Linked DNA regions of Homo sapiens. The protein of the gene in region 1 interacts with the protein of each later gene in a pairwise test. Each region holds a gene or a part of one and is shown in the gene's direction. Other genes may lie near its edges.

Evidence for each region.
Region 2: the proteins of RHOBTB3 (region 1) and RAB9B interact in a two-hybrid assay, tested with the Homo sapiens proteins (one study listed by IntAct).

What each region holds. Positions count from the first base shown.
Region 1 is NC_000005.10:95,728,900-95,744,424, forward strand, and holds the start of RHOBTB3 (rho-related BTB domain-containing protein 3), read left to right. Parts: upstream 1-2,436; 5' UTR 2,437-2,783; coding exon 2,784-2,785; intron 2,786-2,793; exon of another isoform or gene 2,794-2,959; coding exon 2,960-3,185; exon of another isoform or gene 3,186-3,203; intron 3,204-7,989; coding exon 7,990-8,176; intron 8,177-15,525. UniProt on the Homo sapiens protein: Rab9-regulated ATPase required for endosome to Golgi transport. Involved in transport vesicle docking at the Golgi complex, possibly by participating in release M6PRBP1/TIP47 from vesicles to permit their efficient docking and fusion at the Golgi.
Region 2 is NC_000023.11:103,814,902-103,830,426, reverse strand, and holds the end of RAB9B (ras-related protein Rab-9B), read left to right. Parts: intron 1-3,348; 5' UTR 3,349-3,422; intron 3,423-4,600; 5' UTR 4,601-4,642; coding exon 4,643-5,248; 3' UTR 5,249-8,100; downstream 8,101-15,525. UniProt on the Homo sapiens protein: The small GTPases Rab are key regulators of intracellular membrane trafficking, from the formation of transport vesicles to their fusion with membranes.

The sequences.
Region 1 (15,525 bases):
CTCATTATATGCTAATTATAATGCACTAGCATGCTAAAAGACACTCCACCAGCACAATGAGTCTACAAATGTCACGGCAATGTCAGGAAGTTACCCTATATGGTCTAAAAAGCAGAGGAACTCTCAGTTCTGGGAAATGCCCACCCTTTCCAGAAAAACTCATGAATAATCCACCCCTTGTTTAGCATATAATCAAGAAATAACTATAAGTATACTCAGTCGAGCAGCCCATGACACTGCTCTGCCTATGGAGTAGCCATTATTTTATTCCTTTACTTTCTTAATAAACTGGCTTTCACTTTATGGACTTGCCCTGAATTCTTCGCTGGAGGTCCAAGAACTCTCTTTTGGAGTCAGGATTGGGACCCCTTTCTGGTAACAAATTGCTTTAGCTTCTTAAGGTCAATGACCAAGTCTTATGTACCTTGGGATCTCCTATGCCTACCCAGCACAGGCTTGGCTCACCTATTGAGTAACTAAGGAAAAAATGAATACTTTCTCCCTTTCTGACACTTCCAAGTTGTCAGCAACTTTGGTGTCTATTTTTGTTTCATTTTTGTATTAATATTTTTATATTGTCATAAAATATAACAATAGTTACCATGTTAATCATGTTCTAGTGTTCAGTACACGCTCTAGTGTTTAGTTAACAATGTTCTAGCGTTCAGTTCTATAGTTCAGTATAGTACGAACTATATATGCACCTCATGCAACAGATCTCTGTAACTTTTTCTTCCTGCAAACCTGAAACACTATACCTGTTGAACAACGCCCCCTTTTCCCCTCTCCCCAGCCCCTGGTAACCATGATTCTACTTTCTGTTTCTAAGAGTTTGACTACTTTAGATACTTCATATAAATGGAATCACTTTTTGTGATTTGCAACTGGCTGATTCCACTTAGCACAAGGTCCTCAAGGTTCATCCATGTTGTAGTTTATGAAGGAATTTTCTTCTTTTTTAAACGCTAATCATCCATTACATGTGTATACCACATTTTCTTTATCCATTCATCCATTCTAGTGTCTTTGTTTTTGACTTATGGGTTTCCGGAAAAGACTGATGAGAAAATATATTTTCTATTAACCCAAGAGAAAAAGTGATCTTGCATGCTGGAATTTTTAAGGATGGTTTAGGTTCTAGAGACTCAAAGAGAAATCGTAGAAAATGCAAAGGGAAATTAGATTAAAAAAAAAAACAGTGACCACATAAAGAATATCTCCCATTATATCCTCTCTGAGCACGAGAAACTATTAAACTACTTTCAACCGAGCAATAAGGGCCCATAATAAAAAGCTGTTGCCCTAGTTTTTTTACTGCCCTACTCAATACCCCCTCTTTCATACCCTCAAAATAGCTCAGCTGAGAAAAGAAACAGTCCAATTTTACAGAAGGGAAAAATAAACAGATAAAAGGATAAGCAAGAACTCTTTTCAACACAGAGTAAGGTACTGGTTAGAATTTTAATACTGTATGGAGGAGTCTAACCCCAGAGTAATCCCTGGCCCATTTTGGTGTTAGTAAGTGGATCCCAGTGTTCGTTTGTATCGAGGTAGTTTGAAGCACGTTAGGGATATTCATAGCCTTTACTTCAGTGCATTATTATGAAAGAATCTAAAGTATCTTTGCATTTACGTGATTATGTTTTCAGTTGGTCTGCGGAGCTATTATTAAATATGTGGCCATAACGTGTACAGAAAAATCTCCAAGTAAACTGGCATTTAACTTACCAACACGTTAAACCCCCATACATAACTTCCTTTAAAAACGATCACACTAAAAATCCCAGCATTTAAAATCCTGAAGTTTTCGGTAAAATACGCTAAATATAGCTTGAAATAGTAAATAATCCCCCCAAGGCGACATTAGCAAATTAATTGGTGTGTGAACAAAGAACTCTTTCTGCAGCAGCATGAATGTTGCCTTTATTTTTTCTCACAAGTATGATTTTAGAAAACAGCTGTAGCGCATGTTGACAAATGAGAAAGCGGCAGACGTGGTAAAGCACTTTCGGTCAAGGCCAAGAGGGGGGGAAATCGGGTTGCTGGGGCGGCACTCGGGCTGGAATCCCTAGCTTCCCTAACCTCCTTTTTCCAGTCCGGAGTGAGCGGGGGCCCCATCGCCCCACCCCCCTTTCCTGGCTCTGGTTACGGCCTTGCGAGTTGAACAAACTTGCTGCAGGCGGATTGGCGGCTGGGAGCTCTCGGGCTGGGGCGTTGTATTTATTAATTTATATTCCGCGGCGCCCCGCGCGGGCGGCTCCTTTGTGTCCAGCCGCCGCCACCGGAGCTCCCGGGGCCTCCGCGGGGAGCGCGTCCCCCGCATCCGCCCGACCCCCGGGGCTGGCACGTGCTGCGCCCGGTCCGCTGAGGGGGCGGAGGCCCCGATCTCCCCGACCCCCCTTCTCTGCTTAGAGGAGGAGGAGCAGCGGCAGCGGCAGCAGGAGGCGACAGCTGCCAGCCGAGGAGGCGCGGCGGAGAGGGGACTGCGGTCAGCTGCGTCCACTTGGGGCTGTGCGGCGGTCCCGCGCCCGGCGATGTTCCCGGGCACTCCCTGAGTAGCGGCAGCTTATCCCCCGCCCGCTAGCCCGCCCTGGTCCCCGGCTCGCTCGCTGGCTGGCGCGGCCCCGGCCCCGCTCTGCGTCGGCCCCGCCGCGGTGGAGGCGCGCGAGGGGGACGCGGCCGGGGATGAGCGGATTGCGGGTGAACTCGCCGCCCGGGGGCCCCGCGAAGCCGTGAGCCGCTGCTTTTCTCCGAGTCGCCGCCCTGCCCTTGGATTTGAGATCATGTACGTACGCGCCGCCGTCCTGCCATTGTCTCTCTCCAGCGCGTGCCGTGCGCCCCAGGGACAGGGGCTGGTGCCCATCCTCGCCGCGCGCTGTCCCCCGCACTTCCTGTTCCGAGGAGAGACCCGCGCGCTGACCGTGCTTCCCTTCTCCCCTCGCCCCCTCTGTCCGTGCAGGTCCATCCACATCGTGGCGCTGGGGAACGAGGGGGACACATTCCACCAGGACAACCGGCCGTCGGGGCTTATCCGCACTTACCTGGGGAGAAGCCCTCTGGTCTCCGGGGACGAGAGCAGCTTGTTGCTGAACGCGGCCAGCACGGTCGCGCGTCCGGTGTTCACCGAGTATCAGGCCAGTGCGTTTGGGAATGTCAAGCTGGTGGTCCACGACTGTCCCGTCTGGGTAAGGAAGAGCAGCTGCTCCGCGCTGAGGCTGAAGAAGCTTTTCTTTCCTTTTTTTTCCCCCTCCCCCTTCTGCCCACTTCCGTGAGTGTGGAGTGTCCGCGTTACATGGGTCAAATTTTTAAACATTTTTGAGAAAATCTTTGGTCCTTTGTTTCACTGGGCAGGGAACAGCCCTGTCAGAGAACACTCTTAGGAAGATAGAAGGCCCCAGTGGGAATGTGGAGCACTTACTGGTACACTTCACGACTGTGGGTTGACCCTTGGTAGGCAGCAGACAGTTGAATGTGCCAACTCCAAGGGACGGGGTCACTAAGTTTCATCAGCAAAAAGCAGTGTTTTTTTATGTCTACCCTATGGGTGATAGTGTAATATTGGTGTTCTAAAAATACATCCCTCTCAAAGCTCAACACAGGCAAAAATACTTTTCACTGGGACAGTTCAGAAATAGTTCCTCTGGAAAGCGGAGGAAAAGACAGGGACTGGGAGTTAATTTTAAATGACTCATTTATAGCACTATTAATTGATCTCTGAAAACTTAATTTTAATAATGCAAATACTCTTTATGTGTTAGCCATTTGTCTTAGTGACTCATAAATCAGAAATAACATTACTAATGTTGTTTGGAAAACTTTTAAAAAATTAAAATTTGTAATAATTGAACAAAATAGTAGTGAAGTGGATAAATTATAGTCCGATTCTTGAGTGTTTGATTAAGGGAGAAAGGAACTTACTTTCTGACACATATAAATATTTTCAGCATACAATAACATTATGTTTGAATGTTTTCCTTTAGTCTTATTTGAAAATCTTTGATTCTTTACTGATATTGGAGTTACGTATGTTTCAGCTAAATGTTACATTTAATAACAGAAGAAAGTTTAGTGCCTGAAAAGATACAAATTATCGTTGTGTAAGATTTCACATTTAAACAGCAATATTAAAAAAACTGAATTAGGACTATAGGAAAGTATCACGCCATTCTAAAAAATGTGTAGAATATACTTGGAAAAATTTCTTATGCAAAGTTCCACATAACAGAACGAAAAGATCACTCGCTCGTGTAAGTTTTCAGTTAAAGAAGAAAGTTATGTTAATTTGGTAAAATAAAAAACAGGCCTTTTCAATTAAGAGATACTATTAAACCCCTAGTTATGATAGTGATGATGCTGTTCATAAGAAGTATTGATGGAGAACTTACTGGTCAGAGTCTATGCAGGCAAATGAAACACTTCTTTTACTTGGGATCTTTCGTTGTGAAAGATCTTACAGCCTAAAAACATGACGGTTCAACATGCAGTTGAATAAATGTTTAGCGAATCGAGTAAATGTAGGGAAAATAAAACTAGCTACATTAGGATGTTAGGATTGCTTTCCCGTATTTAATTTGAGCTGTTAACACTTTCCTGTTTATACTGTTAATTTTGCAAACAGTAATGCTTGTGATCCCATACACTTTGTCTAGTAAAATGAAATCTTCCAAATGGAGAAAATAAACCTCTATAGTACGGATTTTTGCCATATGCTGGTTGTTATGGTTTATCTTGCTAATAACTTTTTGTTTGGTTAGACTCTGGCCCTATTTAAGGCACCAAGTTTGTAACCAGGTACAATTTTCTAGGTTATAATGATCTTCAGATATGAGATTCCATTTCTAGAGTTGCTCTTTATAAGGTGCTTTTCTTCACTTGGTGGTAAGTAAAGCCCATCAGAGATTCTAAAGCTGATTGCATTAATCAACTGTTATTTGACGTATGTACGGAACCAGAATATTAAATATAGCAGAGCAGATAGAGCATAGCCTTTGATATCAAAAGGATCTGATTTCAGATTCCCACATTGCCATTTCAGGTCTGTGTGTCCTTGTTAAATCACTTACCTTCTCTCAGCCTTATTTTCCCTATCTATAAAATAATATGCCTCCTAAAGCTGTGCTGAGAAGTGAATGAGAAACTAGCACGTGTCAAGTTCTAAGTATAGAGGCTGGCATTTAGTAGATGCTCTATAAGTGGTAGCTAATATAAAAATAAAGTGTTACAACTTTAGTTATGTATCACTTATATTAATACTAAGCAAAAGTAAGATTTTCACAGGTCATTCAAGATTTATACAACTACAGTACCAGTACACTGGGGCAGCGATGTTCATACTTCATACATGCAGCCCCACAATCAAGTAAAATAAAATAGTTTCACTGTAGAAATTCAGATTTTTTTTTTTAAAAGATGAGTTCAATTCTCCAAATGTGGCTCCAAGCCTTGTGTTGCATAACCCCGAGAGGAAACCCTGGAACTGATTTACAAGGGGTGGGAGAATTTGATTTTCTTCATAATTCTAGAAATCTTTGGAGTATTTTCTCTTTGGCATAGTTTGAGAAGAGATGTGTTGTTGTTGCCTTGAAGTTGAAATGAGGTAGCTGTGTTTCCCTTCCCTAGTTCTCTTCTATAGATCCTTAGCCTTACCCTGGATCCTTGCCTTATATACTTGGCACTTTTAAAACAAATGTGCTGCAGATTCATTAGATGTAGCACATTATTTAGTGTGTCTTTCTCTCTCTTTCCCATCCGTTTTTTTGGTGTGGTACATTATTATTTCATTTCACGTTTCTATATCTTTTACTGTTTATTAAAAATATTCCACAAAAAGCAGTGAGGTAGTTTAATAGATTTACAGTTTTCTTTGCAGGGTTTGAAGCTCTGATTTGGATTACAAATTAAGTATTTATAGTCTTCACATCCTCAATCCCACAGAGTTAAGGATGCCCAGACCCATTTTTTCATAACATTTTCCCTTAAAGGTCCTCCCCTTCCCCGGATACCTCTCCAGTAACTCTGGAATTTTGAACTATTTGGAATTCAAAAAGCAGCTACTTTTGATTTATTCTCTCAGAGTTAAATGGCTGCTTAATATTGGCCCCACTTTTGTTTAGTTTTTTATCTCATTTGTCTTCCTTGTTATACTTACGCACTCTGTTATACTTGGATACTTTGAACTTGAACGCTGTAACAGATGCAGTTGGAACTGAATGAGCTGTGTGGTTTGGGATTTGGCAGTTTGAGAGTTCTGCTGGGAAGCTTTCCCATTTTTCTGCACTGTGTCCCACTTCCCTTCTGCCCCCTTGCACCCTCTACCAAGTTCAACCCTTTGCCTTTGTTGTTTATAGTCCATATTTTGCCTTTTTTTTTTTTTTTTGGTTCTTTTACCTCCCTTCAAAAATACTGTACACATCCCAGTTTTGATAGGGTATTCATGACAAAAAATTCTGCAGTTCTTGTTACTCTGAGTGTACTTGTGGGAAATGAGTGGCTGGGAGGGTATGGGGAACTGGGGGAGGCACTGATGAGAAGAAGCTCTCTCTTCAGAAGGGCATTGCTGTGTGATACTCCTCCAGAATGTGCCATCGTAGGATAAAAGCTCTGTCACATAGACCTTGGTTGGCTGATTCAAACACTGTTAACCCTGTTTTAGACTCATATTTCAAAGTTTGAACTTTCTTAGCTCAACAGCTTTTGGACCTGTTAGTCAGACCTAGCTATTTTCTTAATCTAGCTTTATTACATCCTAGAAATGTGTACCAAAGGCCACATAAAAAGACAAATGATTAATAGTTAACTAGAATGTGAGAAGAAAACTACTTGTACATTATTTGGTAGTGGAGTTAAGATACCTAAAGATATTTTCCTTACATCACTATTCATACAGAAACTGAAAAATTATATGTAAAATATCAACCCAGGCCAGGCACGGTGGCTCATGCCTGTAATCCTCACACTTTGGGAGACCGAAGTGGGCAGACTGCCTGAGCTCAGAAGCTGGAGACCAACCTGAGCATTGTGGTTGAAACCCCATCTCTGCTAAAGTACAAAAAAATTAGCCGGAATGGTGGTACACACCTGTAGTCCCAGCTACTCGGGAGGCTGAGGCACAGGAATTGCTTGAACTTGGGAGGTGGAGGCTGCAGTGAGCCGAGATCGCACCACTGGACTCCATGCTGGTCGACAGAAAAAAAATCAAAACATTATATTTTTAAGGAATAGTGTTTGTAATAAATTACTTACTGGCCCCAGTTCTAAATAAATATAAATGTTATTAGCTGTAGCACAAAAGTAAATATTTCAGAACTAGAAGAGTTTATCCTGAATTTTTAATTTATGTAGGCAAAATACGTGAATTGAAAATATATTCCTTACCATGTTAACACCTTGTAATACACAGTATCTCTTTTTTTAGTAAAGGAATTTCTCCCTCACCCCACATTCATACTCTTTATATACAGTACTGTCCAAAGGATGGATAAAGTTGAAAAGTATACATGAATTTTGAAAATATGAATAAAGTATATGGAACTTCACAGAATTTAAAATGTATTGCAGTTCAGAACACTGAAAATCCTGCAGTGTCTAACTGGGTCAGAGGAAAACCTTTGAAGCTTCGTTACTCATACTGTTGCTCTTCCATCTAATGCCATAATGTTACACTTTTGAATTTATGAGGTGATAAAAATATAGTGTAATTTTAAAACAAAGGGCTTATTTTTAAGTGCAAATAGTGAAAGAGGTTGCTTATTTTATCTGACTCTCAAGAATTCTCAGGTTCTCCTGTTTAACCATTACATAATTGTCCAGGCTACATGAGTAAGTAAACATTTTTAAAAAGAGAGTTGGCAGACTGCAACACTTTTAATTTCAAGTAGTTACTTATTTTAAAATAATTTTTTATGAATTCCAAAAATTAATGTCATAAATTATTTCAGGATTGATTGGACGATAAGTAGACTAAAGATTGCTATTTGCATTTTGGTTTAGGACATATTTGACAGTGATTGGTACACTTCTCGAAATCTAATTGGGGGCGCTGACATCATTGTGATCAAATACAACGTTAATGACAAGTTTTCATTCCATGAAGTAAAGGATAATTATATTCCAGTGATAAAAAGAGCATTAAATTCAGTTCCAGTAATTATTGCTGCTGTTGGTACCAGACAAAATGGTAAGTATTTAATATTCTTTTTTGTAGTGAGCATGCAAATATTATATATACTTTAAATAGTGCTAAGTTTATTAATGGATAATAGGGTTTGTTTTTGAAAACCAAAATGACTTTGGTTCAATGCCAGCTGCTATCGCTTCATCATTTGATACGATAAAAAAACAACAAAGGAGAGGATCATGAACTTCTGCTGTGATTCCACTGGGTGCAAATCTGTCTTCTAAATGGCTCTTCTACAGTAGTGATGGAAGTCAGCAATTGTATTATTTTGACATATGAGAGGTATTAGGCTGATGCTGAGCCCTAGAAAACTCTTTTTGATGATCTGAAGGTCTACCTGATTGGGAAGGATAGATTGTTCACATGAAGATGTGGGCTTGGGAGCAGGATTTTTAGGTAGATAACAATGAGTGAGCTGGAAACACTGACAGTGCTGCCTAAAAGAAAGGATTGCTTATTCCATGGCTGATAGATTCATTGGGTTCAGGCTGCTTCAGCCATTGCTGCTGTGCATATTATTGTCAGATATCTTAGGGCCAACTCAGGATTCAGTTTGATTTGGTGGTATTTTACAGATCTTCTTAGTGGTATTTCCTAGTAAAGCTATTTTTAAAATTTTATTTTTACACATTATTCTAAAAACTTTTAAATTGAGGTATTGCGAAGTAAAGGACATAAGGTTTACTGATCTTAGAGTGCAGCTAAATGCATTTTTACCTATGTATACAGCCACGCAACCCACATACATCAAGGTATAGAACATTTGCAGCACTTGAGAAGGCTCCCTCATGCTCTTCCCAGTTAATAACGCTCCTCCTCAGAGGTAACTGCTATTCTGACTTCTAACAACACAGATTAGTTTTACCTATTTCTGAACTTCATACAAATGAAATTATATGGTATGTAGTAGTGCCTTAGGTTAGGCTAATTTCAGTTAGCATAATACTTTTGAGATTTGTCCATGTTGTGTTTATCTGTAGTTTGTTCTTTTTATTACTATATATTAGTCCATTGTATGAATATGCCATAATTTATTTATCCATTCTTCTTTTGAGGATGCTTAGGTCGTTACCCAGGAGCGGGATTGTTGGGTCAGAGGGCAGGTATATATATAGCATTAGTAGATACAAGTAAGGCAGGCATGACCTACCCGTGACCCCATATCCCCTCTACTTCCCTATCTTTCTTTTTATTTCTGGTCATGATTCATAAAAGAGTTATCTGCACTTCCTGAGTCCATTTCCTATTCATTCTTCAGTCCGCTACAGTCTGACTTTGACTTTCACAAGTGCACCAAGTTTGTTCTCCCTCAGGGTCTCCAGTTGCTGTGGTCTGAATTTGTTCCCCAAAGTTCATGTGATGGCACAGTGTTGGGCAGTGAGACTTTAGGAGGTAATTAGGGCAAGAGGACTCTGCCCTCGTAAATGGATTGATGCTATTATCTTTAAAGTGGGTTAATTATCATGGGAGTGGGCTCCTGATAAAAGGATGAGTTTGGCCCCCTTCTGCCCTCTGTCTTGTGAGCTCTCTTGTACTTCTGCCTTCCACCATGGGACGATGCAGCAGGAAGGTCTCACCAGATGCTAGCACCTTGATATTGGACATCTCAGCCTCCAGAACTGTGAGAAATAAATTTCTTTTCTTTATAAATTACCCAGTCTGTGGTGTTCCATTATAGAAGCACAAAACGGACTAAGACACCACTTATGTCCTCGTTAGCCAAATTTAATACACTTTAATAACAATTATCTCTTATCGAAGAGATAAGAGATAATAATACTTATCTCTTGTTGAAATTATTGAAACATACCTCTCCCTCCATTTAATAAAGCTACTGGTTCTTTTAACTATCTGTCTCCTTTGCCTTTCTCCCCTCCTCCCACACACACACAGCAGAATTGTTTCCCAGGGTTCCGTCCTTTGACCTCACCTGTTCTTACTCTTCAGCCAAACCATTAACCTGCTAATCTGTTGTCCTGGCTTCTCCTATATAAACACCGATAACTGTTCAGTCTGTCTCTCTGGCTTTAGTCTTGCTCCTGGCACATATCACCATAGACATCATCTTCCTCTGGCCAAATTTCCTGTCTTGGTGAATGATGCCAGTCCTATCCATTCACCCAAACAAGAATCATCCTAGACCCAGCCCGATTCCGCATATCCAGTTGATTAAGAAGCCCTTTTGCTTTTACATTTTAAACAAATCTCAAACTCATTACTTTCTCTTCATCTCCATTGGATTTCGCATTCTAGTCATTTAGTTATTTGTCATGGTGGCCTTCTTTTTGGTCTCTTTAAGGGATGGTTTCAGATTTTGTAGGGCCTCAAACTTACACAATTTGGGAGGTCCTTCATAAGGAAAAAAACCCACAAAATAACAGATACATATATGTACAAAAGTAAATATTTAGAATGATAAGTGAAAGCACAACAAATTACAACTAAAAAGTTGTCAAATACTACAGACATTTTTAAATGTATGTATATATTTTTGAGACAGGGTCTTGCTCTGTTGCCCAGGCTGGAGTGCAGTGGCATGATCATAGCTCACTGCAACCTGGACCTCCTGGGCTTGAACGATGCCCCCCACCTCAGCCTCCTGAGTAGCAAGGACTACAGGCACGTGCCACCACACCCAGCCAGTTTTTTTATAGAAACGAAATTCTGCCGTGTTGCTCAGGCTGGTCTCCATCTCCTAGACTCAAGCCATCTGCCCCCCTCAGTCTCCCAAAGTGCTGGGGTTACAGGCGTGAGCCACCACACCTGGCAACAGATCTTTTTAACAGCCTGATACTTCTTCAACTTTTCTTATGTTTTTTGGGTGACCATAGTCTTTGGTCATCTCTTCATATGATAACCACTGATAGGTTATGGCTGTGTCCCCACACAAATCTCACGTTGAATTGTCATAATCCCCATGTGTCATGGGAGGGACCTGGTGGGAGGTGGTTGAATCATGGGAGCGGGTTTTTCCTGTGCTATTCTCATGATAGTGAGTAAGTCTCATGAGATCTGATGGTTTTATAAAAGGGCAGTTCTGGTCATGCTCTCTTGCCTGCTGCCATGTAAGATGTAACTTTGCTCCTCCTCCACCTTCCATCATGATCATGAGGCCTCCCCAGCCATGTGGAACTATGAGTCCATTAAACTTCCTTTTCTTTATAAATTACCCAGTCTCAGGTATGTCTTTGTTAGCAGCATGAGAACAGACTAATACAACCACTTTATGATATTTTCTATAGAGATGAGAATGATAATCAGTGGAATCTGATTATCAGTTATCACACACTCAACTATACATGGAAGTGACTATAAACCACAAATAGTTCATTAAGCCTAAGGTTAAATTCCCTTTGGCAACATCCCCCAAATGCCCACAGTTACTCCAGAGCTGCCTGATACAAGATGAAGTGATTTGGAGTGGAAAGAGACAATAGTCTTGACTAAATATCTTAGTTTGCAAATTTTACAAAAGAATATGACCATGTGAAGATATATTGCTCAGGTTCTTCCTGGGGCTTGGAAAGGATCCACAAGAAAAGAGTCTTGAAGCTTGAGCTTCATCAGCTTTATGGTAAATTGGCCTCTGGTGTGCTATTCCTGGTTTGTCTCTTTCTGAAATAAATTCTCTCAGAATAGTTATCCTAGAATACAAGTCAGATCATGGCGCTCAATGCTTTGAATTCTTTGAGAACTTTCTTCTTTGCCTCTTATTTTGCAAAATTTCAAACCTAAGAAAGTTGACAAGAATAAGACATTGAACCCTAGATTTTATAAACACACACACACACACTTTTTTTTGGCTGAACTATTTGAGAGTGAATTGTAAACATTATGAGATTTCTTTATTCCTAATTACTTTAGCATGTATCATCTAAGAACAAGGCCGTTATCTTATTAAGCCTAATACAATCATCAATCAAGAAATCTAACATACTATTACATTTTTACTATTATTTAAGATATAATCTGGCCAGGCGCAGTGGCTCACGCCTGTAATCCCAGCACTTTGGGAGGCCGACGCGGGTGGATCATGAGGTCAGGAGATCGAGACCATCCTGGCTAACACGGTGAAACCCGGTCTCTACTAAAAATATGAAAAATTAGCCAGGCGTGGTGGCAGGTGCCTGTAGTCCCAGCTATTTAGGAAGCTGAAGCAGGAGAATGGCACGAACCCAGGAGGCGGAGGTTACAGTGAACCGAGATCGCACCACTGCACTCCAGCCTGGACGACAGAGCGAGACTCTGACTAAAAAAAAAAAAAGAAAAGAAAAAAAAAAGAGATAGAATCCATATTTTCATTTCCCCGGTTGTTTCCTTATAATGTGCTTTATAGCTGGGGTTTATCATTGTTGTTGTCTTTTAACCAATCCAGGATGCAATTAAATATTACACATTACATTTAGTTGTTATATCTCTCAATTCTCTTTTTTTTTTCTTTCTTTCTGTTTTTTTTTTTTTTTTTTTTTAGAAACAGGATCTTGCTGTGTTGCCTAGGCTGGTCTGAACTCGGGCCTAAGCAATCCTCCTGCCACAGGCTCCCAAGTAGCTAGGATTATAGGCATGCATGACCACATCTGCCTTCTAATCTCTTTTAATCTGGAGCAGTACGCCCAGTGGGTTTGGGGGGAGGGACCGTGTCTGTCATAATATGAACATTTTTAATGAGCCCAGGCCCTTTAGTTTGCATAATTCCTTCATTTATGATAAATGTGCTTGCAAAATAGTGATGTTTCTATCGTTCTTCCTATACTTATTGGTTGATATTCTTCTGTAAATGGAGCTTTCCTTTTTCTCTGCTCCCAAATTTTTCTCTTAGAATTATTATGATTCATGGATTTCTATTTTAAATTCAGTATTTTGTGATCTGTTCTGATTATTCTTTTGGATGCTCACATTGCTCCATATTTGCTTGCAGGGAGTCATTTCAAGCTACCTCTAATCAGTTTTTAGCCCCTTCCTTATTTTCTGGCACAAGATATTCCAGGCTCAGACTTTGCCTATCCCAGTCCTAGAATCAGCCATTTCTTCAGGAACTCTGGTTCCTTCTAGGGGGCAATGATATTTAGAAACCAAGGTCTGGGCTCTAGGATGCTCATGACTTTAGGTGTCTTTACTTCTGCGCCCTTTAATTGGCTAGAGCTAGGGATTATACTTTTTATTTAAATTATGGGCACTGATGCCCTTATTTCAATCTGGTATTCGTATCTCATTTCAATAACTTTTTCTTGTAAAATCTTTACCTGAAATACAAGATCCTTCATGAGGTAGCCTCTGACTGTTTCTATAATCTTGCAGGGCACAATCCCCTGCCTTATGTATCAGTCACACTGAACTACTTGAAAAACTTAATGTCTTTCTTTAGGTCTAGGAAAGTCTTAACTGTGTGACTTCAGATATCACCATCCATCCATTTTCTCTATTCTCTTCTTTTGGGACTTTTGTTAGACTGATGTTGGAACTTCTGGATCTCTTCTCTGATTATTTTATCTTTCTTTTATATTTCTTATTGCTTTATTTCTTTGTGTTGCATTATGGGAGAGTTCCTTGGCCTTTTCTTCTGGTTCACACATTAGTTCTGCTGGGTCTGTTCTGCTATTCTGCCTTATTAAATTTTTTATTTCAAAAGCTTTTCATACCAGATCTCTAATGGCTGTTTTCATAAGTTCTTGTTCCAATCTTAAGGATGCAAACTTTTATTTAAAAAAACTCTCAGACCAGGCGCAGTGGCTCATGCCTGTAATCCCAGCACTTCGGGAGGCCGAGGCGGGCGGATCATGAGGTCAGGAGATCAAGACCATCCTGGCTAACACAGTGAAACCCTGTCTCTACTAAAAGTACAAAAATTAGCCAGGCATGCTGGCGGGCGCCTGTAGTCCCAGCTACTCGGGAGGCTGAGGCAGGAGAATGGCGTGAACCTGGGAGGCGGAGGTTGCTGTGAGCCAAGATTGCGCCACTACACTCCAGCCTGGGGGACAGAGCGAGACTCCATCTCAAAAAATAAAAAAATAAAAAATAAATAAAAAAAACTCTCAGGATAATTAATGATGCTTAATAATTCAGTTTTGATTTTTCTATTAAGTTTGGTTTTAAGATGGCATTATAAGTCGTTCTACTTGATGAGATTTTATTTTATGGTATGGATACTTCTTAAACATTGGGGAATTCTTAATTTGCCTACTTTTGCAGTTGACTTTCCTTGTTGGATTGATGCCTTCCTCTTTCTCTGCCCAGCTGCTGTCTGGGGATGGGGGTGTAAGTAGGAAAACACCCAGGATCAACAGGCTTGGCTGCTTCCACTGGGGTTCTCCCACTCATCCCCAGTCATTTGCCTTTGGGCCGCCTCCTCCTTGTTGCTCCCTGCATTGTTGAGCAGGGAGCACTCTAGGTGTGGCTGCAGTGTGAGCCTGTACTCAGAGCTTCAGGAGGCCTCTTCGGTCCTGTACTGCCTGCCTTCATTCTCTCAAGCACTCCTAGTTTCTGGGCTGATGAGGTTTCCCCTCTAGTTTTTGAGTGTTGCTGTGTATTCAGTCCTTCCTGCCTCCCTCCCTGTCTTTCTCCCTCCCTCTCTTTCTCCTTCCCCCTTCCTTCTTTCCTCCCCTCTTCCCTCCTTCCCTCCCTTCTTCTCCTCCCCCCCATTTTTTTTTTTTTTTGAGACAGCATGTCACTCTGTTGCCCAGGCTGGAGTGCAGTGGCACAGTCTCAGCTCATGGCAACCTCCACCTCAGGTTCAAGTGATTCTCCTGCCTCAGCCTCCTAAGTAGCTGCAATTATAGGTATGAACCACCATGCCTGGGTAATTTTTGTATTTTTAGTAGAGGTGGAGTTTCATCATAGTGGCCAGGCTGGTCTCGAACTCCTGACCTCAAGTTATCCACCTGCCTCAGCCTCCCAAAGTGCTGGGATTACAGGCATGAGACAATGCACCTGGCCCCTCTCCCCCTTCCTTCTTTCCTTCCTTCCTCCCTCCCTCTCTCCTTCCCTCTTCTCTCCTTCCCTCTCTTCTTTCTCTCCTCCCCCCTTCCCCCTTTATTTCATCATCTCTGTGATTTGGCAGGGAGGGGAGATCACAGTGTGGGCTTAGCTTTCCATCTTGAAACTGGAAATGAATGTTTTCCTTTCTTCTCACATCCAGTCCCCTGTACATGCTGTATTCTTAACTGTAGTGCCCCTCTACACAGCCCCTATCATATCAGCATAGCAAATTCACACTTATCTTTTAAATCATTACACTTTCTGTGAAGCCTTCCGTAATCCCCCCAGACAGTTAACTTTCTCTCCTCTGTTGTGTGGTGGCTTTGGACATCTTTATTTCAGTGCTTATTATGTTATATTATAACTGTTTGCAG
Region 2 (15,525 bases), on another chromosome or scaffold:
CATTTGACTTTCCTATTTACGTATTTAGTGTTATCAAAGAATTCATTTGCCTGCTTAATGTTACCTTGTTTAAAGGTTTGGATTAAATCCGGCATATTCTGGGGGAGGAAAAAATGATTTCATTTGCTTTTACACTGTGCTAGTTCTTTTTAATTTAAGTATGTACTAAAGGACATGACATTCATTTTCAAACAATGATAAATGATTGTGGAGAGGCCAGCACCCACCGACAACATCAACTGGATATCATTATTCTGCTCTTGTTTTGGGTAGGAATGGGGAAATGTATATACTTATTTTTAAAATGTGAGAGTAGGGGGAGGAAAACTGGAGCATTTCCCTTGACTTTCAACAGGTGGAATTCCCATTACTCCCCATCCAGAAAATGATCGAGTCAAGTTCATAACTTCTGCTCTTTAGTTACCTTATAAATAATAGTATTTTGGCATCTTACAGAACTATGGATCTATTGTACCTTGGCATCAATTCAGAGGCATTAATTCTGGGCACCTACCTAATCATTTAATTGGTAAACAAATATTTATTATCTCCATGGAGGATCCTGGTGCTGCACACTGAAGGGGCTTCAAAGATGTATACAGTGAGCTTACTATCTAGGAATTTAAAATTGATCATGTAAGAAAGACAGGAAAAGTTTGTTAACAAAATAAGTCAGTATAATGACATTATTTCAACTGTAAACAATGAGATCCTGAGCTTGCATGTTAATTTGTAAACTCCCTGAGGGCAAGACCTTGCCTTAAACATTTATTAATTCCCAACAGTATCTACATCCAATGGATGTTTGAGTGATGAAGCTTTGCAAAGTAGATTGAGTGGGGAGACACCAGAAGCAGGGAGAGAAGAACTTTCACAATAGATTAGATGTGAGAAATTGTGGGCCAAAATGAGGATGGTAGCACAGGACTAGAAAATGATACTTCAAGGGAAAATCAGCAGGATTGAATGAAGGCAAGGAGACAAATCTAAACTGTATTCATTTTTACTTCTAGAAAATAAATGGGAGTTGGAGACAGCAGAGGAGAGTGGAGGGTTTCCTTAGTAAGGACACAACACACAATAGGCACTGTAGTGTTTTCTCAAATATCAGTAGCAAGATTGGACCAGAAGACCCTGAAGGTCCCTTCAATGCTGAGATTCTGTGCCATATGCAGATGTTCAAGCTTGTTGAGGAACAAGGCATTCTCAAATATGGAAGAAAGAGAAAAGGAAGAATTCTTATACTTTCACTAGCAGGCCCTTTCTGAGAAGGGTTAATACTGAGCCACAAGGCCCCCACCAGTGCATGAAAGGAGGTGGAGGAGCCAGAGGAATAAAAATCTCAAACCAAATTTTTCAAAAAATGCTTACAAATCTTTGCAAACTTCATAAGCTTTTCATTCTCCCCCAAAATCCTGTTAAGTAGGGCAGGTATTATCTGCTCTATTTTTATGTAAGAAGATACTGAAACAGAAAGATTAAATGACCTGCCCAAGTTCATAAAATAAATGAATGGTGTAACAGTGATGAAGACCCTGGTGTCCTGATTACTGCCAGCTAGCTCAGTGCTCTTGACACTGAACCACATTGCTTTTCCTCTTTTTCCCTTGGCATAGAGCCTATAGGCCCAGAAGTTATGTGTGCACATAACCAAATAGGGAATGCACAAGCAACTGCAGCATTATCTCAGACAGTTATTAATACATCATCATTATTCCTGGAGCTGAGCATTTGGTTTCCATATTCACTCAGTCCTTGACCTGTCTATTGAGTTTATCTGCAACTGGGAGAATAGGGTCAGTGAGTCTTTTAATGATGTGAACGCCTGTTTGCTAGGAACTCAAGGAAGCTTGTGTGGCCTGGACGCTTAATACTAGCCATCAGAATCATGCCCAAGTTTGTACTTCTGTTGCTTTTCAAAATGAGAGTTCAAGAGTTTTGCTCTGTAAAATTATCCTACAGACCAGTATAAAAAAATAAAAAAGTGTGCTAACACTTGTTTCATCTCCATTTAAAGAAATGTTTGTTACTTGAGCTAATTCCAAAGACAGCAATTTGGGAGCAGGAAAAAGAGGACAAAAATTAGGAATTGTAGGAAACTTGAGAATTCTGTAGAGTGTATATAAACCAAGAAGGAGGATAAAGCCTATCCATTTAGGAGATATTATTTAAATTCATAATTACTGATTTAGATATCTAATGAATCCTTATTATAAGTTTTATCTATATTTAGAAAATAACATGTGATTATTAAGCAGCAGATTTTTTTTTAAAGCTTCGTTCTTCCTCAGTAAGAAATAACACTACACAGATCTAGGCACTGTTTTTCTTCTTAAACCAGTACTCTTGATGCTGCTTAAATAAGATTCTTGCCATAATTAATTATAATATTAGATGAATGTATATTTAAATTTAATAACACCAGCTAAATATTAAAACTGGTGTTTAAGACAGATGAACTGCCAGGTACAGCGGCTCACGCCTGTGAACCCAGCACTTTGGGAACATGAGGTGGGCAGATCGTTTGAACCCAGGAGTTTGAAACCAACCTGGGCAACATGGTGAAACCCCATCTCTACAAAAACTACAAAACTTAGCCGGGCATGGTGGTGCATGCCCGTAGTCCCAGCTACTCAGAAGGCTGAGGTGGGAAGATTACTTGAGCCCAGGAGGTCGAGGCTGCAGTGAGCCATGACTGCACCACTGCACTCCAGCCTGGGTGACAGAATGAGACCTTGTCTCAAATTTAAAAAATAAATAAAGAAAAGAAAAATGACCTAAACTAATTAATAAAATAATTAGCCAAGATAATATACTTTATTGTAAACAGGAAGCCCACAAACACAATTTTTTTCTGCTCTCTAATTATGTGGAATCAATTGCAGAGACAACCTTGAGACAGACTGGTGAGTGCACTAACAACTTTCTTGGAGATGGGAACGTTGGTAGGTATAAAAGGAAGAAGTTTCATCTCCGACTTAGGATTTCAGCATATCTTAGATTGCTCTGTACTTTCCTTTTCCTGAATGTCATCTATTGTGAATATCATCTTTCTTTAATTTGCTTTTACTTTGAATGGAGAATTCAATTGAGAGACAATATAAAATGTAAAAAATTATATAAATTACAAATTAGGATAAGTTAAAGTTCTTGGAATAAAATTATTTTGCTTATGTTAAGCATAGGTAGCATTTTGAACTTTTATTTTTGAAAAGCACCCTCTGTAGGTTACTTGAGGTTGCTGTGGGTTCTTTTTTTTTTTCTGACTTGAATATATTTTTATATAGAGCCTTAACGTTATTTTATTATAGATTTTTTTAAAATAATGTTTTCTATTCTGTTTTATAGCACCCTAAAAAGAAAGAATAAAACAACAACAGGAAAAAAAGGAAAATATTTAAATTGTGACAAAAACCCACTGGGTAGGTATTTCAAGGGGGCACACTGTGGATTTGGGATATTTTAATATTTGATCTCTTAAAAATGAATATTTAGAAAAATATATAGCTAGTACATAGGCATTCCAAAATCATTTTAAGGGCTACTAAATTTTGTAAAATTATATTCAAATGTGTGTGCTTCCAGAAACTGTTTTGCATGCACTCCTTCGATTAGTGATTCGTTTTCATCCCTTTGGGTCTATTGTATAAATATCATCCAATTAACCTCATCACCGTTGAGTTCCCACAATAGACCTAGTGGGAAAGTACCTAACAGAATATAGGAAAAGGTAGTATTTGTTCAGTAAGCATTTGATCTTTTTATTTTAAGACACATTCTAGGTGTTCCATGTGTAGACATGTTGTGGAGGTAACAAGTAGGGTACTGTATAAATATTAGCACTTTAAATTTTGCAGTATGTTTTCAAATGTTGCTATTATGGAATTAAAACCTGAATCCAAAAACTAATAAGCTATTCAAGATTTCCTTCCTTCATGACAGCTGTTATATTGATATCAGTCAATTGTCATCAACTTAAATGCCATTGTTCCATGAAGAAAAAAATATAGAAGATCCTTACTTGAGAGGGTGTTCCTATCAATGCAAGTATAATGGGGTAAATGCCTGAAGAAACGTAACCTTGTTCTCTCTTTCAAATTCTGGGGTGCAGTCTAATTCTGGCCCAGACCTCTACCGACAGAATCAAGAATCCAGTTTATGTAGCTTTCTCTTCTCAGTAATTTTTGTATCCATCAGGAGCAGACTTCAAACCCCAAGTCAATTTCATACTATTTGTCTATTGTTTGGAACTGTCCAAACCGGAAGCTAAAGTTGTCACACATTTGAGTGGCATTCCTGTTCTAGGCTTCCTCTCCTAGAATTGGGTCAGAACTGAACCAAATTACAGGACCATCTGCTAGTCCATTTACCCATGGCACTCAGCCATTTTCCTGGCACAACAAAAGACCTCAGAAAAACAAGACCTATTTTTCCCCTTATGCAAAATTAGTGTTATTTCTTCTGCTGTACTACATCAATTAATGAGCATAAATCAGAGAAGTTGAATGAGAAGGCCTTATAATTCAGAGAAATTTGCTATGAAGTTGATTTCAGTTTCAGGTTTAACTGTTTTCCCTCCTACTTTTCCTTTTATTTTCAGGTTCTCTTGGTTACAAACTCCTTCCCTTCTGGTGCTGCAAAAATGAGTGGGAAATCCCTGCTCTTAAAGGTCATTCTCTTGGGTGATGGTGGAGTTGGGAAAAGTTCGCTTATGAACCGTTACGTAACCAACAAATTTGACTCCCAGGCTTTTCACACCATAGGGGTAGAGTTCTTAAATCGAGATCTGGAGGTAGATGGACGCTTTGTAACCCTCCAGATCTGGGACACTGCAGGGCAGGAACGTTTCAAGAGCCTTAGGACACCCTTCTACAGGGGAGCAGACTGCTGCCTCTTGACCTTCAGCGTGGATGATCGGCAGAGCTTCGAGAATCTTGGTAACTGGCAGAAAGAATTTATTTACTATGCGGATGTGAAGGACCCTGAGCATTTCCCCTTTGTAGTTCTGGGTAACAAGGTAGACAAAGAGGATAGGCAAGTGACTACTGAGGAGGCACAAACCTGGTGCATGGAGAATGGGGATTACCCTTATTTAGAAACTAGTGCCAAAGATGATACTAATGTGACAGTGGCCTTTGAAGAAGCTGTCAGGCAGGTGCTGGCTGTAGAGGAACAGCTGGAGCATTGCATGTTGGGTCACACCATTGACTTGAACAGTGGCTCCAAAGCAGGGTCTTCGTGCTGTTAAAGATAGGGAGCCTTTTAAAAATGTGCCCCAAATTGATCAGTCAGTAGTGTAAGAATAACTGTGCCCCTCTAAGAGTGCACACACACGCACACAAGAGGGTAAGAGACAAGGTTCTGATTGTGAAACAGAGCCTTTCAAATTGAAGTGTAGATTGATTTAAAAAAATTAAAAATTAAAAAAAATGAAGCTCTATCAAGCCAAGTGTATTTTGCGTGATTTCTGCTATTTCCCCTTCTTGTGTGTCTCAGGACATATCAGAAAATTTTAGTCCTGAGACAGTTAAATATTTTTTAAATCACAGTTTAAACCTAGAACCCAGCTGCATGAAGGAGTTAAAGAGCTACAACTATTTCTTAAAGTGTTCCATTAATCAACTAACAAATGTCACTATCAGACTCTTGCCAAGCAGTTTCTGACATTTCTGCCAAAGGGGAAAAAAATCAGACTTTGAGCTGTATTACAATAAAAATAATAATGCAAATAAGGATTCCTAGGCTTGAATTAAAGAAGTTGTAATGATTAGGAGTGCAAAAGTATAATGATATACACTGACTTGTTTAAATCCTTATGTATGGTTCGCTCCCATCTGAGCTTTTCAAAAAATCCCATCTCAATAAGAGATACTCTAATGACACTGGCAATTGATTATACTTCTTGTGTTTGAAGTCATAGGATACTAGTGAATGGATTATGCTTAAATATGCCAACCACCTTTGCAAATAAATGGTTGGTCTGCTTTTAATTCCTAAGTCTACTTTTGCTGCATAGAGATGTTGCTTCTCTGACAACCTCTTACCAATTTAGCAATGCTGCTTAGTATATGAATTTGGATGCAGTGCTCTCTGCTCATCATTTAGATGGTCCTTTGATCCAACATGCTGGGCTCATGGAGAAGGCTTCATAAAAGATTGGGGGATAATGAACTTTTCTCACAAGGCTCCTTAACTCAAATATTTATTGCAGAAGAAGGAACTGGTTTCTTATATGTTGCACTGTATGTTCAACTAGCCTAATTAGGACATTGAAAGTGACAGAAGAGCAGATCTTAACCCAGTGTTAGAATGAATTTCCCATAAACAGAGTTGTCCAACAGTGGAATGGACTGCCTTAATAGTGAGCTCCCTGCCTCTGAAAATATTCACTGGATGACCATCTGTTAGAATACCATAAAAAGATTTTCTGTGCTGGCTACATGTTCAATATAAAGTCCTTTCTGGCTCTAAGTTCTATGAATATATAAACTACATCAGTGCCATGCTGTGGTTAGATTTATCTGATGATAACAGCTAAGACTATGGAGAGGGACTTTAAAAATTCTCAAACCATTCTGTGATCAATCTTTAACAGCAACTACATAGCTCTTCCTTTTGCTTTTGCACTGTGGCAGGAAAAATTCTTGAGCTCTGAGTAATCTTTATGTGACTGATAAAAAACATCTTAAAGCTCCCATGTTAAAATATAAAAATGGTTTGACAATTTTTGATTACCATGACTGTCAGTTATATACTATATTATGAATATGCAGTGTGGTTCTTGTTGGTTGATCTGTTTACCCTGCATAGATTTTAATCTGTACTTTAAAACATCTATGATAAAAATAGTGACAGACAGAAATTACCCCAAAAAGAGACCTAGGCCAGGAAGGGGGTGGGAGCTTTCATAGGAATACAGCCTAGAACTCTCCATTGTAGCCACGTATGGAATCAGCCTTACTTACATGTAGGACCTTTGTGCTTTAAGAGCTCTGGGACATATTGGCCAAATAGAAAAGAAGAGGACAGTATTTCAACTCAGTCATACTCAATATTTCCAATTAAGATATAATCCTGACACCATTGTTCAATTAACTTTGACGCCAGAAGTCAAAGCCAGAACTGGGACCCCACAGCTCTTAAGTACTGGTCCCTATCCTGCCTATGCCTATAGCCAGCCACACTGGTTTCCAAGTTCTGTGATCATTTTGCTACAATCATGTTAGGGTGAAAATCTGTACGTCAGAACTGTTAAATGCTAATTATTTTTAAGTGCATGAGACCTGGGGCCTTCTCTTTCTACTTGCACTCTGCTTATACTAGTTTCTATTTGTAGATCTCAGGCCTTCATCATAAAGACCTCTATCAACTCACAAAAGTATTTGTCTCTATTAGAGTGGCATGTGGTCATTTGAGTAAAAAAAAAAAAATTACATGGGTATCGGATTCATAGGCATCCTGTCCATCTAAGACAAGTGTTAATTTTATTGGCCCATCAGCTGGAGCCCCTTTCCTCTTAGCCATACCATTGTTTTCTACCAAATTACCACTCAATATCTTAATGAAAGCACTCAACATTAAGTGACATAAACAGTGGCATTTGGGTAAGCAACACTCAGTGGGGTGCTGACATACAGTTTGGGTAAGATTAAAAAACACCAAAGGCTGAAATCTGTGAGTACCAAGAACTGTGCATATAGGTTTAGAAATTGACTGTGTACCCTAGAATGTGCAGTGTAATATTTTCAATAGGTGTTTTTTTAAAGAACACTAGATTTTTGGAATAATATATTTCTAATTAGGACTATACTGTTTTTCAATGGTCTGTTAAAACATCATACAGAATATTTATTTAGTTTATTGTCATGTATTGGCTAACTTTCAGGGGCCTCAGATTCCATATGTCTTCAGTGGATTGATGAATATCAGGTTAATTTGTGCCTGCCCCAGCCATCTCTACTTTATTCTGAGGTATTCCACAATCCTCTTGTTGCAGGTGCTGCTAAAAAAAACTCAAAATTGTGTATCAAATATTTTCTTTCAACTGTAAAAAATCATCTGTGTTAAAGTGAATAAAAAGTGCATTTTGAATAACCAGCACACAATGTTTGTGTTTATTCCCTCCCTTTCTCTTTTTGAGAAATTGGTGGGTGTGATGGACAGTACTTATTAATCAAGTCACTCTTTCAGGCTGCACTGGATGTGGCCTCTGGATCATGTTTCATGTGGTACTCCAAGCAGCCACTATCTAGTGATCAGATATTTCTATACTGATTGTGAAGCAAACTCTAAAGATTGGGGCAGGGAGGTCCTTTTTATTTTATACCACTTTCTTTCTATTTATTTAGTTATTAGAGACAGGGTCCCTCCATTGCTCAGGCTGGAGTGCAGTGGCGCAATCATGGCTCATAGCAGCCTCAAACTCATGGGTTTAACCACTTTCTAATGCATGACGTGTATTGGGACTGGAAATTGAATCTTAACTTTCCACTTTATTTCTTTATTATAATTTAAAACCATTACTTAATGGATACAATGTACACTATTCTGGTGATGGGTACACTAAAAGCCCAGATTTCAATCTGCAATATACCCATATAACAAAACTGCACTTGTGCCCCCTAAATTTATACAAATAAAAGAAAAAATATTATAATAAACAACGTTGCATAAAAAATAAGATAAATGTTAAACCATCAAAAAATATAAACAGAGTAGACATATTCCCTTTATTTTCCTGACTGGTGAATTGTCCAGACCTTAGGAAAACATGAAAATATAGGTGAAACAAATAAGAAAAGCAAAGAATAATTTTGTTAAATATTCTGTTCTCTTGCCTCTCACATATTGGATTTTAAAGATACATTAGCACCCAATGGCTTGAATATACATAATGGCGGTTTTAAAATTATGGACACAAATCTTTCCACAGCATATATAGTTTCATTACATTGATTCCATCTGCCACAGATTTCACTCTCTTCTCTCTGTCTACTTTTGCCTGTTGCAACTTTGGGCAGTTGAAATTGGGGGTGGGGAATTTGTTGGGAAACAGATTTTTTTTTTTTTTTTTTGCCACATGTACCATTTCCATCTCTGAGGATTATAATTTAACACATTATCAGACCATGCTTCAAATGCAGCACCCCAAATCATTTTGACTAGTCTATAATGATGCAACTTTTAGAATATAGAAAGTCATAGATTTATAAGCCACTTAATAAGGATTTGCTCATTTGTAACTGATTATTTTTTTTTTTGAGACAGGGTCTCGCTCTTTTGCCCAGGCTAGAGTGTAGTGGCCTGATCTTGGCTCACTGCAACCTCCACCTCCTGAACTTAAGCAGTCCTTCCACCTCAGCCTCCTGAGTAGCTGGGATTACAGGCATGCACCAGCATGCCCAGCTAACTTTGTGTGTGTGTGTGTGTGTGTGTGTGTGTGTATGTGTGTGTGTGTGTGTGTGTGTGTGTGTGTTTGAGACAGGGTCTTGCTCTGTTGCCCAGGCTGGAGTGCAGTGGCCTGATCTTGGCTAACTGCAACCTCGGCCTCCCGGACTCAAGCGATTCTCATGCCTCAGCCTCCCTAATAGCTGGGATTACAGGCGCCCGCCACCACACCTGGCTAATTTTTGTATTTGTTGTAGAGACAGGGCTTCACCATGTTGGCCAGGCTGGTCTTGAACTCCTGGCCTCAAGTGATCCACCCACCTGGCCTCCCAAAGTTCTGGGATTACAGGTGTGAGCCAATGCACCGGGGCCCATAACTGATATTTTAAAAACAGAATGCCAACTTCCTGTCTTTAATGTTTTTCTGCCTCATTCATAACCCAGTGGGAAATCTCCTCATGATGTCTTAAGAAACAGTACGGTCTCATTTTTTGGAAATGGTTTGGCGATAGTCCTTCCAGAAACAGGAAGGTGTGGAATACATAATTTGTCTTCCATCTTGTAACTGTAGTTTTAAAACACACTGGAAAATCGAGGTATCAATTTGAGTAATTTCAAGCTGGGAGGTGGGATGGACATCTCTACTTTCATTTGAATTACCCAAAGTAGATCTTGCAGCAATTTTTTTTCCTCAGTGATCTAGATAATCATTTCACTTTTTTTCTCTCTTTGCTGTGGAAATGTAAAATTTACTACAGTGCAGTGTTTTTCTTACACTTGATTTTAGGGCAGATAAACTGTAATATACTGTCTTAGCCCATTTGGGCTGCCCTAACAAAATACCATAAGCTTGGTAGGCTATAAACTACAGAATTTCATTTCTCAGCTCTGGAGGCTAGGAAGTCCAAAATCAAGGCATCCGCACATTCAGGGTCTGGTGAGGTCTTGATTTCTGGTTCACAGATGGCACCTTCCAGCTCTGTGGAAGGGGGAAGGGGTTTCTCCTGGGCCTCTTTTATAAGGACACTAATCCCATTTATGAGGGCTTCACCCTTGTGACCTAATCACCTTCCAAAGGCCCCATCTCCTTATAATGCCATAACCTTGGGGGGTTAGGATTTCAACCTATGAATTTTGGAGGGGGACAAAAAGATTCAGAGCATAGCATACACCTTTTGATAAAACGTTAATGTGCATGATTTGGGATATTCACTAATGTTTTCTTTTTCCAAACTGGTCATTTTAATTTCCTCAAGTTTCCATCACCAAAAGAGCTCTCATTCTTTACTACTTTCTCTTTAAGAGAAGGAAGGGATAATGACAAAAGCTAGGCATGTTTATGGAATAAAGGAAAAATTATTAAATGCCTTCTTACTGATATGCTTGCCAAAACTGGTGAGCAAGGATCTCTTATTCTGCTAGTGATGGTAGTGGTAATAATGTGTGAAAGGGTTTTTTTTTAAGGGGGCAAGAAGTTACTTAATATTTTCCCAGTGAAAATAAGCATCTTCACAGCTCAAGATGTGGCGTCGTCACCTGTAGTCATATAGAAACTGCTGCAGTGATCTTTGTGTCTTCATAAATCTCTTTGCCTTCTCCAAGGAAACACAGAGAATGATGATTCAGTTATATATAAATGTCTTTTTAAACAGTGGGTTTTGTGTGTGCAAGCATGTGTATTTTTAAGTAATCTGTCAGTTCCTTTCGTGCTGTATGAACTATGGGTAAATGTATAATGGTCTCACTATAACACTCCTGAATTTTAATCAGACCTGCCAAGCTGTGCCACATCTAGTTAACTGATTGATAAAAAGAATTGGGAAATGCTGCCTTAATGAAAGAAATAGCTCTTAATTCAACATTAGCTATATTGATTAGAGTAAAAATACAAATCACACTTTCCTGTGGTGCATTCATGAGGAAGCAAGAAACAGGCTCATATCATCTCTTTTCTCTTACGTTGTTCCTGGCTGCCTTAGAAACGACATATCCAAGGGTGTGTCCTGTAATATATTGCTCAACATAGAGTCTGTTAATAGATGAACAAGTGCCAGTAGCCTCTGAGTTCTCTCTTTTTCCATTTGTTCCCTGCTAGAAAACTTAGAGTGACCGATAAATGCTTTAAAATGTTCTTTTTTTCTGATTACAAAAGCCATACACATCCACCGTAGAAAAATGAAGTAATGAAAGAAATAGAAAAGCAAGATTTAAAAAATTAAAGTCATCTGTAATGTAATCCTATTAACCTGAGATAAGCAGATTTTAACATTTTAGTGTAGATTTTAATATATTTATGTATTTTTAAAATTGATTTGATACTGCACACACTGTAATCTTTTTTACTTAATATATATCTATAGTACTTAACTTTTCTCTAAGACATATATTCTTCTAAGATTATATTTGCTGTTTGCATAATATTGTATTGAAGGGTTTACCACAATTACCCATATTGCTAAACTTTTAATAAAACACTTATTGCTAGACATTTAGGTTGTTTTACAGCTGCCTTCTTTTCATAAAATAAAGCATCAGTGAAGTTCCTTAATATCAATCTTAACTCTCACCTCTGTTTATTTCCTACTAGTAAAATTTCTAGGTCAAAGATTATGAATTTTTTATTAATTTTAATATATACTGGCAAATTGGCCTCTAGAAACTTATCCCAAATGACATCAACACCAGTAGAATAAGAGGAAGACTATCTTTCCAACACCCAAACGTATGGACTATTATCTTCCTTTTTAACCCCATATGTGCAGTCTGATGGGTGAAAAAATGATCTCATGCTGTCATTTACATTTATTTAATTTTTTGAGAGTAATTGTTTATACATTCATTGGCCATTTTTATTTTTCCTTGAGTGAATGGACCCTTATGGGGGTTGGGGAACATTCATTTTTGTTTCTTATTGATTCCAAGGAAATCTTTTTTTATATTGTGGGTATTAACCTTTGATCTTATCCACATTGCTAGTTTTCTGCAATCCCCTCCCATAGATCTTGCCTTTTAATTTTGTTTATGGTATTTTAAAAATATACTGCCATATTATAGAAAAGGTTATGTTCTGATAAATTAGAAAACTGGTGGGTTGGGGAAAGAGAGGTGCTTATTTGATTTGTCCTTTGTTTCTGATTATACTCGAGACTACTTTTGTTTAGAAAGGTTATGAATCTAAGCTTTGGTCACCATGATAAAAGAATTGCTAGAAATAAAAAATATTCATTCATCCAGATGCTTTAATTGCATGATGTCAAATGACTGGTTTGAATTGAGTCTACTGCTGTAATAATCAGATTATTCTGAAGCCTTGTGTTAAATATAAATGCAGAGATAGAAACAGTTCCACTTTCAACCACAAGGGGGCAATAAAGACCGGTTAGTGTTCCGCCATAGACTAAACTTATATATATGTGTGCATATATATAGTATATATAGAGAGAGTATATATATATATTATATGTATACTTTAATTTCTGGGTTACATGTGCAGAACGTGCACATTTGTAACATAGGTATACACGTGCCATGGTGGTTTGCTGCACCCTTCATCCCATCACCTACATTAGGTAGTTCTCCTAATGTTATCCCTCCCCTAGCCCCCAACCCTTGACAGGCCACAGTGTGTGATGTTCCCCTCCCTGTGTCCACGTGTTCTTATTGTTCGACTCCCACTTATGAGTAAGAACATGCGGCGTTTGGTTTTCTGATCTTGTGATAGTTTGCTGAGAATGATAGTTTCCAGCTTCATCCATGTCCCACAAGAGGACACAAACTCATCCTTTTTCATGGCTGCATAGTATTCCATGGTGTATATGTGCCACATCTTCTTAATCCAGTCTATCATTGATGGACATTTGGGTTGGTTCCAAGTCTTTTCTACTGTGAATAGTGCCACAATAATCATACGTGTACATGTGTCTTTATAACAGAATGATTTATAATCCTTTGGGTACATGTCCTGTAATAGAATTGCTGGGTCAAAAGGTATTTCTAGTTCTAGATCCTTGAGGAATTGCCACACCATCTTCCACAATGGTTGAACTAATTTATACTCCCACCAACAGTGTAAAAGCGTTTCTATTTTTCCACAACCTTTCCAGCATCTGTTGTTTCCTAACTTTGTAATGATTGCCATTCTAACTGGCTTGAGAAGGTATCTCATTGTGGTTTTGATTTGCATTTCTCTAATGACCAGTGATGATGAGCATTTTTATATGTATGTTGGCTGAATAAATGTCTTCTTTTGAGAAGTGTCTGTTCATATCCTTCACCCACTTTTTGATGGGGTTGTTTGATTTTTTCTTGTAAATTTGTTTAAATTCTGTATAGATTCTGGATATTAGCCCTTTGTCAGATGGATAGATTGCAAAAATTTTCTCCCATTCTGTAGGTTGCCTGTTCACTCTGATAATAGTTTATTTTTCTGTGCAGAAGCTCTTTAGTTTAATTAGATCCCATTTGTCAATTTTGGCTTTTGTTGCCATTGCTTTTGGTGTTTTAGACTTGAAGTCTTTGCCCATGCCTATGTCCTGAATGGTATTGCTCAGGTTTTTTTCTAGGATGTTTATGGTCCTAGGTCTTACGTTTAAGACTTTAATCCATCTTGAATTAATTTTTGTATAAGGTGTAAGGAAGGGGTCTAGTTTCAGCTTTCCACATATGGCTAGCCAGTTTTCCCAGCACCATTTATTAAATAGGGAATCCTTTCCCCATTTCTTATTTTTGTCAGGTTTGCCAAAGATCAGATGGTGGTAGATGTGTGGTGTTATTTCTGAGACCTCTGTTCTGTTCCATTGGTCTATATATCTGTTTTGGTACCGGTACCATGCTGTTTTGGTTACTGTAGTCTTGTAGTAAAGTTTGAAGTCAGGTAGCTTGATGCCTGCAGCTTTGTTCGTCTTGCCCAGGATTGTCTTGGCTATGCGAGCTCTTTTTTGGTTCCATATGAAGTATAAAGTAGTTTTTTCCAACTCTGTGAAGAAAGTCATTGATAGCTTGATGGGGATAGCATCGAATCTATAAATTACTTTGGGCGGTAAGACCATTTTCATGATATTGATTCTTCATATCCATGTGCGTGGAATGTTTTTCCATTTGTTTGTGTCCTCTCTTATTTCCTTGAGCAGTGGTTTGTAGTTCTTGAAGGGGTCCTTCACATCCTGTGTAAGTTGTATTCCTAGGCACTTTATTCTCTTTGTAGCAATGGTGAATGGGAGTTCACTCATAGTTTGGCTCTCTGTTTGTCTGTTATTGGTGTATAGGAATGCTTGTGATTTTTGCACATTGATTTTGTATCCTTAGACTTTGCTGAAGTTGCTCATCAGCTTGAGAAGATTTTGGGCTGAGACAATGGTGTTTTCTAAATATACAATCATGGCATCTGCAAACAGAGACAATTTGACTTCCTCTCTTCCTATTTGAATACCCTGTATTGCTTTTTCTTGCCTGATTGCCCTGGCCAGAACTTCTAATACTATGTTGAATAGGAGTGGTGAGAGAGGGCATCCTTGTCTTGTGCCAGTTTTCCAAGGGAATGCTTCCTGTTTTTGCCCATTCAGTATGATATTGGCTGTGGGTTTGTCATAAATAGCTCTTATTATTTTGGGATACGTTCCATCGATATTGAGAGTTTTTAGCATGAAATGCTGTTGAATTTTGTCAAAGGACTTTTCTGCATCTATGGATATAATCATGTGGTTTTTATCATTGGTTCTGTTTATGTGATGGATTACCTTTATTGATATGTGTATGTTGAACCAGCCTTGCATCCCAGGGATGAAGCCAACTTGATTGCAGAGGATAAGGTTTTTGATGTGCTGCTGGACTCGGTTTGCCAGTATTTTGTTGAGGATTTTCACATCGATGTTCATCAGGGATACTGGCCTAAAATTCTCTTTTTTTGTTGTGTCTGTCTCTGCCAGGCTTTGGTATCAGGATGATGCTGGTCTCATAAAATGAGTTAGGGAGGATTCCCTCTTTTTCTATTGTTTGTAATAGTTTCAGAAGGAATGGTGCCATCTCCCCTTTGTACCTCTGGTAGAATTCGGCTGTGAATCCATCTAGTCCTGGACTTTTTTTTGGTTGGTAGGCTATTAATTATTGTCTCAATTTCAGAACCTGTTATTGGTCTATTCA